Homo sapiens: one gene and its partners. The protein of the gene in region 2 purifies or fractionates together with the protein of the main gene of each other region. This does not show direct contact. Each region holds a gene or a part of one and is shown on either strand. Other genes may lie near its edges. The genes, in order: E2F5, TFDP2 and E2F3.

Evidence for each region.
Region 1: the proteins of TFDP2 (region 2) and E2F5 purify together in Homo sapiens (affinity purification with mass spectrometry; 3 studies listed by BioGRID and IntAct, with this or other methods). This does not show direct contact.
Region 3: the proteins of TFDP2 (region 2) and E2F3 purify together in Homo sapiens (affinity purification with mass spectrometry; 3 studies listed by BioGRID and IntAct, with this or other methods). This does not show direct contact.

What each region holds. Positions count from the first base shown.
Region 1 is NC_000008.11:85,180,039-85,187,153, reverse strand, and holds part of E2F5 (transcription factor E2F5), read right to left. Parts: intron 1-7,115.
Region 2 is NC_000003.12:141,950,467-141,957,581, forward strand, and holds part of TFDP2 (transcription factor Dp-2), read right to left. Parts: intron 2,551-7,115; coding exon 2,445-2,550; intron 2,231-2,444; coding exon 2,047-2,230; 3' UTR 1-2,046. UniProt on the Homo sapiens protein: Can stimulate E2F-dependent transcription.
Region 3 is NC_000006.12:20,481,878-20,488,992, reverse strand, and holds part of E2F3 (transcription factor E2F3), read right to left. Parts: intron 6,232-7,115; coding exon 6,073-6,231; coding exon of another isoform or gene 6,044-6,072; intron 2,305-6,043; coding exon 2,190-2,304; intron 881-2,189; coding exon 745-880; intron 1-744.

The DNA of each region.
Region 1 (7,115 bases), on a different chromosome or scaffold from region 2:
ATTAACAAGAGAAACTACAGAATATTCACAAATACATGGAAATTTAAAAACAAAAAACATGCTCTTAAACATCTAATGAGTCAATGAAAAAATACAAAGGGAAACTGAAAAATATCTTAACAAATGAAAATGGAAACAATATAACAAAATCTATGGAATACAGCAAAAGCAGTTCTAACAGGGATTTTTTTTTATGCTTGGATTGTTAGAGAAAACTAAGGAGGAATTTATATATATACACACCATATATATACCTTACATATATATATACCATATATATACACCTTATATATACACACCATATATATACACCTTACATATATATACCATATATATACACCTTATATATACATATCATATATATACACCTTATATATACCGTATATATACACCTTATATATACCATATATATACCTTATATATATCATATATACACCTTATATATACCATATATACCATATATATACCATATATACCTTACATATATACCATATATACACCATATATACCTTACATATATACCATATATATACCTTATATATACCATATATACTTTATATATATCATATATATACACACACACCATATATATACCTTATGTATATACCATATATATATATACCGTACATATATATACACACACACATACACACACCTTAAGTTCTGGGGTACATGTGCAGAACGTGCAGTTTTGTTACATAGGTATACATGTGCCATGGTGGTTTGCTGCAACCATCAACTCGTCACCCACATTAGGTATTTCTGTTAATGCTATCCCTCCCCTAGCCCCCCAACCCTGAACAGGCCCCACTGTGTGATGTTCCCCTCCCTGTGTCCATGTGTTCTTGTTCAACTCCCACTTACGAGTGAGAACATGTGGTGTTTGGTTTTCTGTTATTGTGATAGTTTGCTGAGAATGATGGTTTCCAGCTTCATCCATGTCCCTGCAAAGGACATGAACTCATCCTTTCTTACGGCTGCATAGTATTCCATGGTGTATATGTGCCAGATTTTCTTTATCCAGTCTACCATTGATGGATATTTGGGTTGGTTCCAAGTCTTTGCTATTGTGAATAGTGCCACAATAAACATACGTGTGCATGTGTCTTTATCATAGAATGATTTATACTCCTTTGGGTGTATAGCCAGTAATAGGATTGCTGGGTCAGATGGTATTTCTAGTTCTAGATCCTTGAGGAATCACCACACTGTCTTCCACAATGGTTGAACTAATTTAAACTCCCACCAACAGTATAAAAGCATTCCTAATTCTCCACATCCTCTCCAACATCTGTTGTTTCCTGACTTTTTAATGATCGCCATTGTAACTGGTGTGAGATGGTATCTCATTGTGGTTTTGATTCGCATTTTTCCAATGACCAGTGACGATGAGCATTTTTTCATATGTTTGTTGGCTGCATAAAAGTCTTCTTTTGAGAAGTGTCTGTTCATATCCTTTGCCCACTTTTTGATGGGGTTGTTTTTTATTGTAAATTCGTCTAAGTTCTTTGCAGATCCTGGATATGAACTCTTTGTCAGATGGGTAGATTGCAAAGATCTTCTCCCATTCTATAGGCTGGCTGTTCATTCTGATGATAGTTTCTTTTGCTGTGCAGAAGCTCTTTAGTTTAATTAGATTCTATTGGTCAATTTTGACTTTTGTTGCCATTGCTTTTCGTGTTTTAGACAAGAAGTCTTTGCCCATGCTTTTGTCCTGAATGGTATTGCCCAGGTTCTTTTCTAGGATTTTTATGGTTTCAGGTCTTACGTTTAAGTCTTTCATCCATCTTGAGTTGATTTTTGTATAAGGTGTAAGGAAGGGCTCCAGTTTCAGTTTTCTGCATATGGCTAGCCAGTTTTCCAACATCATTTATTAAATAGAGAATCTTTTCCCCATTTCTTCTTGGTGTCAGGTTTGTCAAAGATCAGATGGTTGTAGATGTGTGGTGTTTATTTCCGAGGCCTCTGTTCTGTTCCATTGGTCTATATATCTGTTTTGGTACCAATACCATGCTGTTTTGGTTACTGTAGCCTTGTAGTTTAGTTTGAAGTCAGGTAGCATGATGCCTCCAGCTTTGTTATTTTTGCTTAAGATTGTCTTGGCTATGCAGGCTCTTTTTTGGTTCCCTATGAAGTTTGAAGTAGTTTTTTCCAATTCTGTGAAGAAAGTCATTGGTAGCTTGATAGGGATAGCATTGAATCTATAAATTACTTTGGGCAGTATGGCCATGTTCATGATATTGATTCTTCCTATCCATGAGCATAGAATGTTTTTCCATTTGTTTGTGTCCTCTCTTATTTCCTTGAGCAGTGGTTTATAGTTCTCCTTGAAGAGGTCCTTCACATCCCTTGTAAGTTGGATTCCTAGGTATTTTATTCTCTTAGTAGCAATTGTGAATGGGAGTCCACTCATGATTTGGCTCTTTGTCTGTTACTGGTGTATAGGAATGCTTGTGATTTTTGCACATTGATTTTGTATCTTGAGACTTTGCTGAAGTTGCTTATCAGCTTAAGGAGATTTGGGGCTAAGACGATGGGGTTTTCTAAATATACAATCATGTCATCTGCAAACAGAGGCCATTTGACTTCCTCTTTTCCTGTTTGAATGCCCTTTATTTATTTCTCTTGCCTGACTGCCCTGGCCAGAACTTCCAACTCTGTGCTGAATAGGAGTGGTGAGAGAGGGCATTCTTGTCTTATACTGGTTTTCGAAGGGAATGCTTCCAGTTTTTGTCCATTCAGTATGATACTGGCTGTGGATTTGTCATAAATAGCCTTATTATTTTGAGATATGTTCCACTGATACCTAGTTTATTGAGAGTTTTTAGCACGAAGGGCTGTTGAATTTTGTTGAAGGCCTTTTTGCATCTATTGAGATAATCATGGGTTTTTGTCATTGATTCTGTTTATGTGATGGATTTATTGATTTGCGTATGTTGAACCAGCCTTGCATCCCAGGCATGAAGCCAACTTGATCATGGTGGATAAGCTTTTTGATGTGCTGCTGGATTTGGTCTGCAGTATTTTATTGAGGATTTTTGCATCGACGTTCATCAGTTATATGGGCCTGACATTTTCTTTTTTTTCATTGGCCCATTTGGTTTCTTCAGAGGCCTCGCTCCTTGGCTTACAGATGATCACCTTCCTGCTGTGTCCTCACATGGTCTTTCCTCTGGGTGGCAGCATCTGAGGCATCTCTTTGTATATCCAAATTTCCCCTTTCTCATAAGGACCCCAGTCAGATTAGATCAGGTCACAGCTTAATTTTAGCTTAATTATCTTTCAAAGGCCCTATCCCCAAATACAATCACATTCTGATGTATGGAGGTAAGGCCTTCAACATATGAATTTTGGGGGACACATTTCAGCCTATAACATCCATTAAGCAACAAATTCCATTCTGTTTTCCCTCAACCCCTGGTAACCACCCTTCTACTTTCTGCCCCTGTGAATTTGACTACTCCAGGTACCTCACGTAAGTGGAATCATACAGTATTTATCTTTTTGTGACTGGCTTATTTCACCTAGCATTATGTCCTCAAAGTTTATCATGTTGCAGCATATGTCAGCATTTTCTTCTTTCTAAGCCTGAAGAATATTCCATTGTATATATACCACATTTTGTTAAGCTACTCATCTATTGACGGACATTAGGATTGCATCCACATTTTGGCTATTATGAATGCCACTGTTATGAACACAGGGGTATACATACCTTCTTGAGGCCCTGCTTTCAATTCTTTGGGTATACACCCAGGAGTGGAAGGGTCCTGAGAATTTGTAAGCATGCACTAAAGTTCTCGCTGTCCTACCCACATATCTCTCCTTAGGCTAATTCTACCTTAAAATGTTTGCCTGGTATTACAAACTAGGGTCTTTTGTTGTCGTTGTTGCTGTTTTTCGAGACGGAGTCTTGCTCTGTCACCCAGGCTGGAGTGCAGTGGCGTGATCGTGGCTCACTGCAAGCTCCGCCTCCCGGGTTCACACCATTCTCCTGCCTCAGCCTCCTGAGTAGCTAGGACTACAGGCACCAGTCATCACACCCGGCTAATTTTTTTGTATTTTTAGTAGAAACGGGGTTTCACCGTGTTAGCCAGGATGGTCTCAATCTCCCGACCTCGTGATCTGCCCGCCTCGGCCTCCCAAAGTGCTGGGATTACAGGCGTGAACCACCGGGCCCGGCCAAACTAGTGTCTTCAATTATTTATTTATCCCAGGATGTATCTAAATCAGGCTCATAAACGGGTATGCATCAGGGACCTGTCAGATAAGACGCACCATACTTTATCACATTAATTCAGGTATAATTCAGGTAATTTATTAAGTTAAAGAATTATAATAAAAGAGATAAGCAATCTTCATCATGCTTAAAAAAGCTCATACTGACACCAAAATGGCAAATAAAATGTAGAACTTTAGTTATAACTTACATTTAATAGGAATTTTCAAAACAACATACAGATACATAGTCATGACTATCTTAACAGTTGTTCAAATTCTTAACTGTGAACAAGTGAAATCCTAGTTTAATTTATGCAATAATACAGAATATGTCACCAATAGCTTCATTTTCAGGAGCACAGTACCTCCTTCTTTTCCACCTTGGGCAGAGGAGTAAGAATAATCATGCATTTTTCCATGCCCTTATGCAAATGGAAACCTACCTACATACATTTATTTTTGAAGACTACTGAAAGATGGTATAACATAGAGAATAACAATAAATGGTCTAATTTCAAATCTTAGCTCTCACTTTCTACTGTACAACACCAGGCAAGTTATCTAACCTATCTTGGCCTACTTAACTAGCAGTTTCTTACGCTGTGAAATGGGGCTGTTCTGCCGAAATGTTCACTGTTGTTAAGAGGATAACATTAGCTAAAAACATGTAAAATGTTTTGCATATGGTAAGCTCTTGATGTATATTAGCTATTAACAGCATAAACTGGCAAACCACGTAGCTTGAAATAACCATGATATAATTTCTTATCTCACTGGAATAAAGAAATAATAACTATCCCACCTCCACTATTGTAAATGAGACTATATGGTGTAGGTGAAGCTGCAGAGATAATGAATAAACTTTCCTCACATCACTTTCAATGTCTTTCTATTGCTTCCTAATTGTTAAGTTATACTACAACAGCTTTATTAAAATTGATTTTCTATGTTGAGCCATGTTTTTTTTTTTTGAGACACAGTTTCGCTCTTGTCGCCCAGGATGGAGTGCAGTGGTGCGATCTCGGCTCACTGCAACCTCCGCCTCTTGAGTTCAAGCGATTCTCCTGCTTCAGCCTGCCAAGTAGCTGGGATTACAGGCGCCTCCACGACGCCTGGCTAATTTTTTTGTATTTTTAGTAGAGACGGGGTTTCGCCATGTTGGGCAGGCTGGTCTCGAACTCCTGACCTCAGGTGATCTGCCCGCCTCGGCCTCTCAAAGTGCTGGGATTACAGGCGTGAGCCACCACGCCTGACCGAGCCATGTTTTCAATTAGTTATATTATTAAGAAGAAATGGCCAGGCGCGGTGGCTCACGCCTGTAATCCCAGCACTTTGGGAGGCCGAGGTGGGAGGATCACGAGGTCAGAAGATCGAGACCATTCTAACACGGTGAAACCCCACCTCTACTAAAAATACAAAAAAAAAAAAAACAAAACTAGCCGGGCGTGGTGGCGGGCGCCTGTAGTCCCAGCTACTCAGGAGCCTGAGGCAGGAGAATGGCGTGAACCCAGGAGGCGGAGCTTGCAGCGAGTGGAGATCGCGACACTGCACTCCAGCTTGGGTGACAGAGTGAGACTCCCGTCTCAAAAAAAAAGAAGAAATGTGTCACTAAGATACAACCTTACGTTCTTATTCTCCAGCAGCATAAGATAGAAAAGAAATAGCATCTATGTGGTCTAGGATACTTTATGATATCCAAAATATTTGGATATTTTACTTGAAGTTTGATATACTTTTTTATTCTTTGGGATATTCAAAAACTGTTTCTTCAAGGCCGGAAGCGGTGGCTCACAGGGGAGACCAAGGTAGGCAGATAGCTTTGAGCTCAGGAGTTCGAGACCAGCCTGGGCAATATGGCAAAACCCTGTCTCTACTAAAAATATAAAAATAAGCCAGGCATAATGGTGTACGCCTGTAGTGCCAGCTACTTGGTAGGCTGAGGCAGGAGAATCACTTGAGCCCGGGAAGTGGAGGTTACAATGAGCTGAGATTGTACCACTGCACTCCAGCCTGGGCGACAGAATAAGACCCTGTCTCAAAAAACAAACAAGACCGGCCGGGCGCGGTGGCTCACGCTTGTAATCCCAGCACTTTGGGAGGCCGAGGCGGGCGGATCACGAGGTCAGAAGATCGAGACCATCCTGGCTAACATGGTGAAACCCCGTCTCTACTAAAAATACAAAAAAAATTAGCCGGGCGTGATGGCGGGTGCCTGTAGTCCCAGCTACTCGGGAGGCTGAGGCAGGAGAATGGCATGAACCCGGGAGGCGGAGCTTGCAGTGAGCCGAGATTGCGCCACTGCACTCCCGCCTGGGCCACAGAGCGAGACTCTGTCTCAAAAAAAAAAAAAAAAAAAAACAAGACCAACCAAAAAACCATATATATATATATATATATATATATATATATATATATATATATGTATAGTTTCTTTAACTGCGTTTAAAAGTCAAGTGTATAACTTAAAAGTTTCAAAAAAATTATGCTGAAATATGCCCCCACCAAAGTAAGAATACAAGAGAAAATGTGTCTTTATAATTTCAAATTAGAGGAAATTTATAATTGTCAGTGTGAGTCCATCTTTAATATGTATTATCAAACATGTCTTAATGGGCTGGGTATGGTGGCTCACGCCTGTAATCCCAGCACTCTGGGAGGCTGAGGCAAGCAGATCATTTGAGGTTGGGAGTTCGAGACCAGCCTGGCCAACATGGTGAAACCCCTTCTCTACTAAACATACAAAAATGAGTCGGGCATGGTGGCGGGCACCTGTAATCCCAGCTACTTGGGAGGCTGAGGCAGGAGAATCGCTTGAACCCGGGAGGTGGAGGTTGCAGTGAGCAGAGATCTGCCACTGCACTCCAGCCTGGGTGACAGAGCAAGACTCAGTCTCA
Region 2 (7,115 bases):
AGAGATGGAGAGTAGAGAAAAAAACAGGTTTCCCAAGAACTCTGGCAAGAATGTTGCTACTTGGTGAAGGAATGGTTATCATTAGTGCACCTGTCTTAAATCCTGAAATGCATCTTGGGACCTGCAGTTCAATATTTTGAAGACTACAAAGGTAGCAGTGGCTGTTGGCCTCTCCAGGTCCCTGCTGGGTCCCAGAGATGAGAAAGGGTGGAGTTAGTAAAAGAGGAGGCTGCCCCTTAAAGGACAGTTTGGTTTGGAGGGAAATCCCAATCCGTGCAGCTGAAAGATTCCCTGCAGGCCCCTGGGGACCTGCTGTCACCTCCCCAGTGTTCCTGACTGGTCTGAGAGGTGTGCTCCAGAACCCACGATAAGACCGAGTTCTCTAGAAACTGCCTCTATCTCTGAGTCTGTACTATGGCTTATTTCTGACAGAATGAAACTTTTGTATCAAAGGAGCTTCAGCTAAAGTTGAATGTTTTTCTTTCTCAGTTTTTATGGCCTTATTAAACATGTTTAGCTAGCCAAAGCTTCCTCCTCCTCACCATGCTCAGTGTTAGCATGGTGGTGAGGCTATAAAGAGGCACCACAGGAAGGAGCCTGCACTTCCCCCATGGGATTTAAAAAAGAACCAATTTGGGCCATGCTTGGTGCATCTAGCATAATCTTGGGACAAATCCACATGATTCAGGTCAAAGTTTTGGAGTTAATTCTCCCATTATTATTTGCTCCTTTCCAAAGCCTTAATGTGAAATTCAGTCAGGGTCTGGCCATGGTGGCAGGTGTCCCTACACTCTTTCATTCAGAGAAGGAGCAGCTGTGAATACACCACTGCAGTATTTCTAATGACATCTTGAGCCATAAACAACATAACTGCACTACCATATATCCAGGCAGTAGGAGTGTTCAACGTTTTCTAGTGTTTCTGTGAAACACTAAATATTGGATTAGTTTGAAATGCAATTGACCCCAGGAGTAGGCTCAATAAGGTCATTCTGATTAATGAAAATGTGAAAAAAGGTGACATGTACAAGGAAACACTGCTGTTCATATTCTTGAAATAGACTTTTCTTTAAGACAAAAGTAATGACATTTGGTTCATTTTCACAAATTGCACACTGGGTGAGATCATACAATTACTGCAGGGAACTGTAGGCAAGCAATTTGGTCATAGGAATTTGTTTCTTTGTCTTGTTTTAAATGAAAAAGCTATATGAAATGCATAGCTTTGATTAACCTAAAGATACAGTTTCCTTCTTTGTAAAACTCCAGATTTAGGATGCTGGCAAAGGCAGTGCTGGCAAAGTATTTAATGCACATGGAAATGCTATTCTATTTTGGCTTCCAGAAGTAGCCCTAGTAAATTCTATGCACCAATGCATTGGCTAATAATAATTTCAGTTTTACTATAAATTATCTAAATGTCACTTAAGTACTTAAGAAGTAGCGCTCGCTCCTTTCTAGAAGCTGTCTAAGGCAGCTGATGCGTAAAGCACCTCATCTAGACCTCCAACTAGTTCAGCAGTTCAATCTGTGCCCCTCAGCCACAGGACTGCCCTCAGTATCCCTCACTACACAGCTCCCCTCTCCTGGGGACTTTTCATGTTCATTTCTGCCTTGTCAAAGGCAGTCCAGGCAAGGAAGAGAAACGTCAGAAACACGATCGTCAAGGACTGCTCCGTGTAGCAATCTCAATTCTAAGAATAATTACATGGGTGTGAGGAACACAAAAATCCCACCTCACAGAAGATAAATGAGTTGCACTCACACTGCCAACTCTTCAGGGATTATCCCCACTATCTCCTCAGAAAGCATGCTTTCTTTGTTATATCATCTACTGCTCTGTTGGCCAGACTTTCATTCACACTATGTTAACTTTCATCTCAATCATCTCAGCCTTCATGTGATTTGCTTATTGTGTTTCTCTAGTTTTCACTGAACACACAGTGCAAACAAAGGCAAAGACTGAAGCAATCATTTCAAAAACAAGAGCTCACACTACAAACACACATGAGCATCACATATTGAAACGTAGGCTTTCTCTTGTCTTTATTCTGGGGAGGAGGAATCCTCCTCATCATCTTCCTCATCTTCATCATTGAACGAACAGGGGGTCTCGCCTCGGGACTCGGAGCAGTGAGAGGCCGCACTGCTGGACTGGTGACTGTTTGGGGCCAGGAACTGCCCAGTTGCTAAGGCCACTTCTGCATCCAAGCATAACCCTTGGTTTACACTAGCAAACAATTAAAAACACACAGGCTCATTAATGTGGTATAAACAGTTTTGTAAAACATAGGAATAAAAACAGGAAGGAGGTGCCATTGGTGAGATCTGCCACAAACCTGCTCAGCAGGACCTGTGCTGGCAGTAACATGACCCCGGCTCACCCCTACACAGACAGTCAGGGCTCTGGGGTTTGCCTTTCTAACCCTGAAAAAAATACGTACCTTGACTGGGGTAAGGTGGCACCAGTGGTCAGGTCTAAATTTGAAACTGATTGGGTAGAGTTCAGAAGTAGTCCCTGATTTAACCAAGAAGGTCCTGTGGAGATATCTAAAGGAAAAAATGAGAACAAAAAATGTCGGTCCTGCAAGTTCTGTGGCTGCTGTTGTTACAGTCTGAGGAAAGCACAGAAAAGCAAGAGCTAAGCTTATTCTTCATGACAGCTAGACAATTCTCTTGCTGTGACAAGAACCCAGGTTTCTTCATCTTCTTGGAAGAAAAAAAAATTTCTAGAACATAAGAGCAGGAAAAAAAAAATACGGGAAGGCAGCTTACGGAGAGAAGGTATTCAAATGAAAACACTCAAAGGCACTTTCTTACTCTTTTTCTTAGATAAGCCCTCCAGAGCACAGCCCATGGGATACATCCCAGTGTACCACCCTCAATGCCTTCTGCCCTCAGCACAAAAGACCTGGACTGTGGTGTTGAGAGCCAAAGCCAGAAGTGGGAAAAGAGAAAATCAAATCAGAAATACATGAGGTAAGAAGGCCACCCTGCTTAGAGGGCAGACAGACATGTTTTGGCCAAAACCCCCGCCGCAATGTCTTTTCAGGTGCCTGCTGCTGGTGAACTCAATGCTGCTACTCATCAAATATCTATTCTTTTTCCTGACAAGATTTTTCCTGGTGTCTGTTGCTTTCTAATTCAAACTAGCTCTTATTTTATTTTTTTTATTATTATTATACTTTAAGTTTTAGGGTACATGTGCACAATGTGCAGGTTAGTTACATATGTATACATGTGCCATGCTGGTGTGCTGCACCGATTAACTCGTCATTTAGCATTAGGTATATCTCCTAATGCTATCCCTCCCCCCTCCCCCCACCCCACAACTAGCTCTTATTTTAAAAAGGTCACATGCAGTCATGTTTTTAATGAGGCAGACACAGACGTTACTGTTTTAGTCTACAGAAAATAGTTTGGGCTGAGCACGGTGGCTCACGCCTATAATCCCAGCATTTTGGGAGGCCAAGGAGGGCGGATCACCTGAAGTTGGGAGTTCTGTCCAACATGGAGAAACCCCATCTCTATTAAAAATACAAAATTAGCTGGGCGTTGTGGTGCATGCCTGTAATCCTAGCTACTCGGGAGGCTGAGGCAGGAGAATCACTTGAACCCGGGAGGCGGAGGTTGCAGTGAGCTGAGATTGCACCACTGCACTCCAGCCTGGGCAACAAGAGCGAAACTCCATCTCAAAAAATAAAAGAAAAAAAGAAAAGAAAATATTTTGGATATCTCCTTGCCATCTTCTTTTCTATACATATACCACATTTATCCTATGACAACACTGATCAATTCTTATTGTAATTTTACTGGTTTAATACTTTTTATCTTCCCATCTACAGTGTTAGCTCAAAGAAGGCAGTAACTGGAACATGTAAGATCTAAATGTGGCGGGGCGCGGTGGCTCATGCCTGTAATCCCAGCACTTTGGGAGGCCAAGGCGGGCAGATTGAGCTCAGGAGTTCGAGACCAGCCTGGCAAATATAGCAAAGCCCCATCTCTATTAAAAATACAAAAATTAGCCAGGCATGGTGATACATGCCTGTAATCCCAGCTACTAGAGAGACTGAGGCAGGAGAATCACTTGAACCCAGGAGGCGGAGGTTGCAGTGAGCTGAGATCGTGCCACTGCACTCCAGCCTGAGTGACTGTCTCAAAAAAAACAAAAAAAAACAAAAAAACAAAAAAGTTACTGAATGAATGAGTATAGTCTCTGTCAGCTGCCACTTTACAAAATAAGTGGTAGATACATTAAAAGTAATTCCTAAAAAGAAATTCTATAAGCCCAAACACATACTCAGAAAATGTAATCTGCCAAAATGAGCTATGATTTAATTGAATCAAAATCTTTTTGCAATTACTATACAAAAAAATGAAACTATATGATTTAGATTGGAAACTCTGGTATCCAAACAAGAGGCCATTCCCACGTAGGAAAAAAGTAAACTAAATGACTATGCTAATTTTAGAACCGTCTTATGAACCTTTTTCTTTGAGACAGCTGGGAAAAAAAAGAGACTTCAAGTCTAAGAAGAATAGCAGACTTTAAATACATTAAATAACGACAAGTCTGTACAAGAAAATAAAATTAAAGCCAGAATCTTGTGCTGAATATTAATTAGTATATAGAACTATAGAAACCTTCTGTCAGAACACAGCTATTTACTTGTTTGTGAGCATAACACATTACATTCTCTTTTTACAATGAATTGGAAAAGCCTACATTTCTTTCCTATTATCACAGGATCCACACAATGGTTCTCACACTCCCACCCAGGCCATTCTGCCCCTTTACACACGAGAGGCACATGTTTCTTCCTTTGAACTAACCAGAAAGTCTGTATCCCAGTCTGCAAATGAGGTCACGAAGAGATCAAAACCACAGAGCCTGCCTAATCGCCCTGAGCCTTTTCACTGGGAGTAAGCTAAAATAAAGTTCTGGTGATTTATTGAGTAAGCCCTTTATTCAGATTCTGCTGGCCTTCCAATGACACAGCAGGACCCAGGCTGGAGAGCGTGGAGAGAGGAAAGCTGGGTGGGGAGACGGAACAGGTGGGCTGAGGGGCAAGGAGAGGCGGGGGGCCCTTGCAGGGGATGAATGGTGCCAACCGAAGAACTAAAACAGAAACCAAATCTCAGCCAACAAACTCTTCTGTTGTGAGCAAAGGACCAAATCATAGAATAAAACAAAATTAAAGCTACCTTTTTGCTTACATTGGATTTAATGTATCTTAGACCTAGTATTAAAATGCCTTTAAAAAGCGATGTGAAATTCTAGATGGTTATACTTACAAATAAAATAAACAAAAGAAAGCAAAGGCAAAAACACTGCTTATATATTCATTTCTTTTTTTAAAAGACAGAGTCTCGCTCTGTTGCCCAGGCTGGAGTGCAGTGGTGCAATCTCCGTTCACTGCAACCTCTGCCTCCCAGGTTCAAGTGATTTTCCTGCCCCAGCCTCTCAAATAACTGGAATTACAGGCATGTGTCACCATGCCTGGCTAATTTTTGTATTTTTAGTAGAGATGGGGTTTTGCCATGTTGGTCAGCCTGGTCTTGAACTCCTAACCTCAAGTGATATGCCTGCCTCAGCCTCCCAAAGTGCTGGGATCACAGGCGTAAGCCACCGCACCCAACCTATATAGTCAAATTGTATCTACAAAATATGTAATATTTTCAGGAATTAGGAAAATCAGGAAGATTTCTAAATTAGTGAAAAAAATCTTAATTATAGGACATGTAAAACATAGTGCTTCTGTTTTCAAGTATACTCAGTATAACTTTACAACTCTATAAAAAGACAAGTAACTCTACTTAAAAATGAGCAAAGGATGGACTGTGGGAGGCCGAAGCGGGTGGATCACCTGAGGTCAGGAGTTCGAGACCAGCCTGGCCAACGTGGTGAAACCCTGTCTCTACTAAAAATACAAAAATTAGCTGGGCGTGGTGGTGGGCGCCTGTAATTCCAGCTACTTGGGAGGCTGAGACAGGAGAATCGCCTGAACCCGGGAGGTGGAGCTTGCAGTGAGCTGAGACTGCACCATTGCACTCCAGCCTGGGTAACAGAGAGAGACTCCATCTCAAAAAAAAAGTCAATGTGAATAGACATATTTCTGAGGAAGACATACAAATAGTCAATAAACACATGAAAAGATGCTCAACATCAGAAGTCATTATGGAAATGCAAATCAAAATCACAGTGGGAGCCAAGGCAGGTGGATCGCTTGAGCTCAGAACTTTGAGACTAGCCTGGACAACATGGCAAAACCCCATCTCTACCAAACATATCAAAAAAAAAAAAAAGATTTAACCGGGCATGGTGGCACACATCTGTGGTCCCAGCTACTCAGGAGGCTGAGGTGGGTGGATCGTTTGAGCCCATGAGTTCGAGGCTGCAGTGAGCAGAGATTGCGCCACTGCACTCCAGCCTGGAGAGCAAGACTCTCTCCCCTCCACCACCACCCTGCCCCACCCCCCCCACAAAAATCACAGCGAGATATCACTTCACTTCTGTGAGGATGGCTATAATTCAAAAGATGTATAGTGACAAGTGTAGAAAAGGATATGGAGGGCAGGCACGGTGGCTCACATGTATAATCCCAACACTTTGGGAGGCTGAGGCAGGTGAATTCAGGCCAAGAGTTCCAGATCAGCCTGGCCAACATGGTGAAATCCTGTCTCTACTAAAAATACCAAAACTAACCGGGCATAGCGGCAAGGTGCCTGTAATCCCAGCTACTCAGGAGGCTGAGGCAGGAGAATCACTTGAACCTGGGAGGTGGAGGTTGCAGTGAGCCAAATTACGTCACCGCACTCCAGCTTGGGCGACAGAGTGAGACTCCGTCTCTAAATAAGTAAGTAAGGATGTGGAGAAATTGGAACACTTATCCACTGGTTGGACTGTAAATGGTACAGGAGCTTTGGAAAACAGTTTGGTATTTCCTTAAAATGTTAAACACAGAGTTACCATATGACCCAGCAATTTCACTCGTAGGTATATGTTTTTAGAGATAAAAACATATGTTTACACATAAACTTTTATAAGAATGTTAACAGCAGCATCATTCGAGATAGCCAAAAAGTGGAAACAGTCCAAATATCTACCAACTGAT
Region 3 (7,115 bases), on a different chromosome or scaffold from region 2:
TGAGATGGAGTCTCACTCTGTCACCAGGCTGGAGTGCAGTGGCGGATCTCGGCTCACTGCAACCTCCGACTCCCTGGTTCAAGTGATTCTCCTGCCTCAGCCTCCCGAGTAGCAGGGATTACAGGCACGTGCCACCACGCACAGCTAATTTTTGTATTTTTAGTAGAGACAGGGTTTCACTGTGTTGGCCAGGACAGTCTCGATCTCCTGACCTCGTGATCTGCCTGCCTCGGCCTCCCAAAGTGCTGGGATTACAGGTGTGAGCCACCGCACCCGGCAAGACTTACTTTCCTAGCGTTCTCCTCCCATATCCTCTCCCCATCTCATTGGGGGGGAAAATAAGACAAAAATTCTCCAACAAAGGCTTTTCTCCTCAAACCTTTTTCATTTCCCTCTCTGATGAGCTCTGCAGTGTGATTCAAAGGTGTGTGGCCAAGTGTCTCTGATGATCCAACAAGACAGTTCACAGCTTTGCTCCTCACTTTAGCTGGTTTTCAAAAATGCTGTAAGGAAACATTCTCTGCCAATAGCAAAAGCCTGAAGCGACTCCATAAGTGGGTGAAGGAGCCGTTTTTCCCAAATCATTATTTTCTTCTGCAAACCAGTCAGAATGTCTTTTAAAACATGTTACCTAATACCAATAGAAGTTTGTGTTTCTTGCCTAGGCTTGTGGTTCCAATACAGATGGTTCTAGTCACCCTCATTTTTAACATAGTTTCTAAAAGACAAAAGTGGAGTTTTTACCTTTGGAAGCGGGTTTAGGGATATTCCCATTGTGGTCTTGGTTGTTTGTTTTCATTGGACTGTGTGTTTCAGTCTCTTCTGGACATAAGTAAACCTCAATGGGCCCTTGGGTACTTGCCAAATGTATTTGTAGGCTCTATGAACAGAAGTGGGAGAAGTTCGAATCAGAAGTTCTTTTAGAAATAAAAGCCATAGTAATTCTTGTCTAAAAATGGAAAGTAAGAACAATGTTCGTTTTTCACTTGCTTTTTCCCTACTAGTCCAACTCTATGAAAGACTGTCATCCTCTAGAGCAGGGGTCAGCAAACCACAGCCTAAGGGCCAAATCCAGTTCACCAAGTGGCTTTGTAAATAAAGTTTTATTGGAAGAGAGTCACATCCATTCCCATTGTTTATTATTGCCTCTGGCTGTTTTCGTATCACAATGTCAGAGGTGCACAGTTGAATAGTCTAGACACAGGCTGTACGGCTCGCAAAGCCAAAAATATTTACTATCTACCTGGCACTTCAATGAAAAAGTTTGCTGAGTCCTGCCCTAGAGAAAGAAAACTATTTTAGTGGGGCTTGGGGGAGAGGGGAGTCATTCTGAAAATAGCACAATGGGTGAGGTGAATTGTGTTCTTTGGATATATTCTTTTTCTGCAAATTATTACAAGGTCCTTTAAGTGTTCCAAATTCAGTATCTCCATGTTATTGTTCCTTTATGGTAGGACTTTTTCATGTTGAACTGTATACTGATGAATAGTATTCTTAAGTGCTAGGAACTGCATCTATTAAGAGAATGCAGCATACCAACATTTAAAAATCTTTTTCATCTAGGTCAAAGAGCTATTATTATCTTTTAAGGTAAGAAGTCTACCCTAGATGGAAGCGTGTAACTTTCATTCTCTTTTTATCTCCTATGCATTTTCTTTTTACTACAACTCTTTATGTTATAGTTGTAGTCTAGGCCTCTATTATCCAAGTATATCTGAAAATTACAAAAATATGCCCCCTACTTTCTTGCAATATTCTAGTCTATCAGCTAACCCAAAGCCCCATGTGATCTCTCAAAATGTTATAAGTTAGGGAGAGACTTTAAAACATTTATATATCTGTTCGTGGTGGGGACCATATACAGGATAATCAATATAAACTTTCCAAAGTGATTCAAATTGATCAAAACCGTTGATGACAAATTATGAAAAAGAGAAAGTATGAGAGGGACAGCGCATCATATACCACTTTGAACTGAACATCCTGCTAGGTCAAAGTTAGGTTGTTTGAATACTCAATGAACATCAAACCATTGAAATGTTTTCAAATGTATGGTTAAGTAAAATAAATGGGAAAGAACCATCAAGTTCATAGGAGGGGGACAGACTTTAACTATGAGTCAATGAGTCATTCAATTTCAGGCATTCCACAAAGATCTTTGCAGATGAACAAAGACGCTGTCTCCTTACCTCTATTGAGTCAGGCACTTCAAGTCTTGTTTCTGGAGGGGCTTTCACAACTATAACAGTTTGGTCTTTAAGGCCACTAATTTTTCGAATATCTTGATATGTAACATAAGCTAACGTAAAGAGTGTCAAGGAATCTTCCATCTAATTACCTCAGATATAAGTATGATGAAAATGACAAAATAGATGCATGGAATATTTTAAAGTATTTTATGACTTAGAAGTATGCATATGTGGCCGGGCGCGGTGGCTCACACCTGTAATCCCAGCACTTTGGGAGGCCGAGGCGGGTGGATCATGAGGTCAGGAGATGGAGACCAACCTGGCTAACACGGTGAAACCCCGTCTCTACTAAAAATACAAAAAGTTAGCCAGGCGTGGTGGCGGGCGCCTGTAGTCCCAGCTACTCGGGAGGCTGAGGCCGGAGAATGGCATGAACCCGGGAGGTGGAGCTTGCAGTGAGACGAGATCGCGCCACTGCACTCCAGCCTGGGCGACAGAGCGAGACTCCTTCTCAAAAAAGTATGTGTATGTCTCCCCTTCTGGATGTGCAAATGTTTAGGGTCTCCCATGAATCTTCATTTCTGGTTGACACTCTAAACAACTAAAGAAATGAATAGCTTTATCCCGCCCATTTCTAAAAAGACTATGGCTATTTAAAATATTAAACATAGAAACAGAACAGTTAAAATAAATGATCATAAGAAAATAAAAAACTAAGTGGTCAGAAATTTTATCTTGAAGCCAGGGTCCTTTGCAGCACAGGCATTCCATGAACTCCAATAAAGTGTTCTGTCACTCAAACTGAATGATGGCAGATTCCAATTTGCAGGAAAAAAAAATGTAATCTCTATTAGCCATAATTTTTTTGAAACTCCAGTTACTTCTATCTACAAGCAAGTGTCAGCAGCCACCAAGTAAATAAATAAGTAACAAATACATTAGTGGAGGAACTCAGAATACTGCTCAGGCAGACAGCTTGTTTTCTTAAGTGCACCTGGGCTGGTTGTGATTATGTACTGCCTACAGAAAAGAGTGTCATTATTTCTGTTAGAAAAATTATGCTTTGCGTGATACTATATTAACTCTATCAATATTTCAGTGTTCATGAGGAAGAAAGCAGTTTCCAGGTGCTCTGCGACTTGAATGAATTTGAGAAACACTGATTTAGGAAAAGAGAAAAGTATAATATCTCAGTACTCTTGGTAGTTATTTCCTTTTTCTTTTTGAGACAGAATCTTGCTCTGTCACCCAGGCTGGAGTTCAGTGGCCCAATCTCAGCTCACTGCAACCTCCGTCTCTGGGGTTAAATGATTCTCGTGCCTCAGCCTCCCAAACAGATGGGACTACAGGCGTGCACCACCACACCCGGCTAATTTTTTTTATTTTTAGTAGAGATGGGGTTTTACCCTGTTGCCCAGGCTGGTCTTGAACTCCTGGACTCAAGTGATCTGCCTGCCTCCGGCCTCCCAAAGTGCTGGGATTACAGGTGTGAGCCACGGCGCCCGGCCTTGGTCATTTTTTCTAAGCACTGAACCATTCTTTTAAATGTCCTGACAGCCAAGCCTAAAAGGCTATCATGAAAGAATATGGTACTTACGATATGACAAAAGTATTCAATTAATGTACAATGTCTTTAGCCCGTTATTATTTTTTATATGTACCCACAAAAAATTCCTAGGATAAAACAGCAAGTAACAAACCAATGAAGGCATTTCAGCAGGTAGTATAACGTATTTAATGGCTAATAGAGTCCGTGATCTAATATGTTTAATATAAAAAAAAGGGGGGGCTTAGAGACCCTAGAATAAATCATGTCCCTTACGATAGTAGCTTCTTTTTTTTTTTTTTTTTGAGACGGACTCCCACTCTGTCACTAAGGCTGGAGTGCAGTGGCACGATTTCAGCTCACTGCCACCTCTGTCTCCCAGGTTCAAGTGATTCTCCTGCCTCAGCCTCCCGAGTAGCTGGGATTACAGGCATGAGCCACCGTGCCTGGCTGTAGTAGCTTCTTATTAGAAACTGAATGCAGCTATGGAACTACTACTCCAGAAAGAAAGCACATTCACACGAAATCTGCATACACATGTAGGGGATCTATCACAGACTATCTCCTTCAAATCTTTACAGTTGAGATGATGGCTAATTCAGTGTTGAGCTTGTAGTGGCTGCTCTTGCAGGATTCTGGGTTTTAGGTCACTACATAACCCATCAAAGAAGTCAACGGATGCCTTTATAGAGGGCCAGGCAGTTCTGATTTTTTACTGAGAACACTGGAAAAAACTGACAACCAGGTACTTACACTACAGCTCACTGTCAAAAAGCTGTATGACAAGAACTTATTAAAATAAAAACTCATCACTTCTTGGCCTTTTGGCTAAGATCAAGTGTAAAAGAAAAACTCATCTACGATTACTCAACATGCTGCAGGAAGGAAAATTTCAACACATTTGTGAACAAGCTGTACCAATTTGGGAACTGAATGGTGAACTGAAATAAATTGTGCAAATGTATTTTCTAATCTTACAAACTTAAAAGTGCTTCCTTTGTGGCTCCCTCCTGAATTTACTCCTTGGGTTCGAAGTTCCCTGCAAGGAAGCTTTCATTTTCTGCAACAAAGGCCCCAGAGAGAGCTAATATAGGTGACAATGCCATAAGCCACATGTCCCGGAAGGCTGCCAATCACATGTAACCACCCATCTCTTCCACAATGGGGCTCCCAACCAAACAATGAATGAAACAGCCCAACTGTTGGTTTCTTCCCCTGTAAACCCACTCTGCCAACCACTGGGGGTCCAAATCACTACGCCTCTCTTCCATCTCACTAATTATCGGCTGACAAGGTTAATTCTTTGGTCAACAGGAAATGAACAATTGCAGGTTTGAAAAACTGCCAACATTGGAAGAAAATAAATATCTCCATATTCTCCAAGGGGGAGCCTGTTAAAGATGAGACACTAGAAGAATCTGGGCAGAACACTTTTTAGTTTTTGTCAAATAATGGTAAATGTGCAATCATCAGAAGTTTGGAACTAAAACTAGAGATGGGATAACTTACAGTACTGTTTTTTGTCTTCTAATAACTGAGAATATTGGCAAGTCTTGTTTGACATAATGAGGCAATCTCTCTCTTACTTTGTCTGTAGTGAGATGATGAAGAGCAAGTTTTCCTGAGATCGTCAATAGATTGTCAGGAAGTTGAGAACAAGAACTGACCTTTTGTATTTTTATTTGCGAGGACTAATGTTTGTAGTGGAACAGAGGAATTGAGAGGGGTTTCTCAGGTCTTGGGGTGCTTTTGAAATCAGTTTTTTCATTGGGAATCAGCAGAATGCACTTTAAGAGTTATAGTATGATTTTTCTCTACTCTTTCAAACCCTTCAACTATAGCCCAATCAGATAGATTCAACCAATTTCAATTGCTACGATATCTGGTGAGAAGAAAATAGAATGTGAGAACCCCAACAGTGACAGCTAACACCCACCAAAAATCTGGGAAGCCAAAGACGAATCTGCTTAGTGTTGTCATTAATATTAATACCGACACCTTATGTATCTTTTAATAGTGTGGCCTTACGCTACGAGTATACCCATGTCTCAACCACACATGAAAAAATGCTTTAAAAAACAGTTCCCACCTGGTATCAAAATAGATAATAATAGGATCGAGTTGGTGACTATCTTACCATAAATACTGACTTTTTAGGCAAAGCTAACTGGGTTTACACACACACGTGCACACACACACACATACACACACAGGCACACAGGTACTCATTTGCATGACATCAGAATAATAATCTACCTTGTGCATAAGTCAGATTGTCAACTCTGGAAATAGTCTAGGAAGCACTAACCCCCAGAGAACTGGCGGCACAAAGGATATCTTTGATTCTCTGAATCCTCGGTTAACAGTTTGAGGTCCAGGGTGCAGCTTTGGATCAGTTCATCTAATTTCTTCTCTTCCTGACTGAGCTCGGTCACTTCTTTTGACAGGCCTTGACACTGGGCCAGCATGCCCCCATCCTCAGACAGACTGCAGCCCCTAGAAACCCAAACACAGACTCTTCATGGCTACTCATGGGAGGGAGGGGAAGGAGAAATGATCCTTTGGGTAAATGTCTCCTCTTGACATAGGAGGTCACATTGCTTGTTAGCCAAGTGTTAAAATTAGAACATTTACACATATATATATATATATATATATTTTTTTTTTCATAAATACAGTTCTGCACTTTTCACAGCATAGAAATTTAGTGAAAGCGCACTGCTATTTTCAGGATTCTTTCCTCCAGGGGAGGTCTACTTCTTCAGAAGGTTCAAATTCAGAGGGCAAAAGAAGGCAACCACCTTCCTCCCTTGCCTCATGGCTCCCAGGTGGTGGGGGAAGAAAGGCGAAAAAGGATAAAAAGATAGAGAAAGACAGAGAAGATGGAATGGTTCAAAATTAAAAAAAAAAAAAAACAAAAAAACAACCCATCCAAAAAAGCATCAAAAACTCAGGTAATTACTGAGGGTCTTATATCAACAACTAAAAAGAAAAGAAAGTAAAGGAAACAGATGTATGTGATGTATGCAAGAACTGAGACTAGTGCACAATATGTTTCTCTAAACCAGAGGCCAAAACGGGTTACCAAACTGTCAACAAAATTCCAAAATGTGCAAAAAAAGGTATGTATTCATCTTCCATCTGAATTAGTATCTTTTCAAAGCCCTCCTGTAACAGAATTATTCCTTCCAAAATGCTTTAATAATTCAATACTGTGCTTATAGTGGCTATTTAGATGCTCTAAAATTCACAAAATATATTACATATGTAATCATACGTGTGGCTGTATAAGTATCATGCTACCATCCCTGCTCTACAGACGAAATGGAGGCATTTAAGTCTTGCCTTAATTTACCCAGAAAGTGAGTTAATCTGCTATT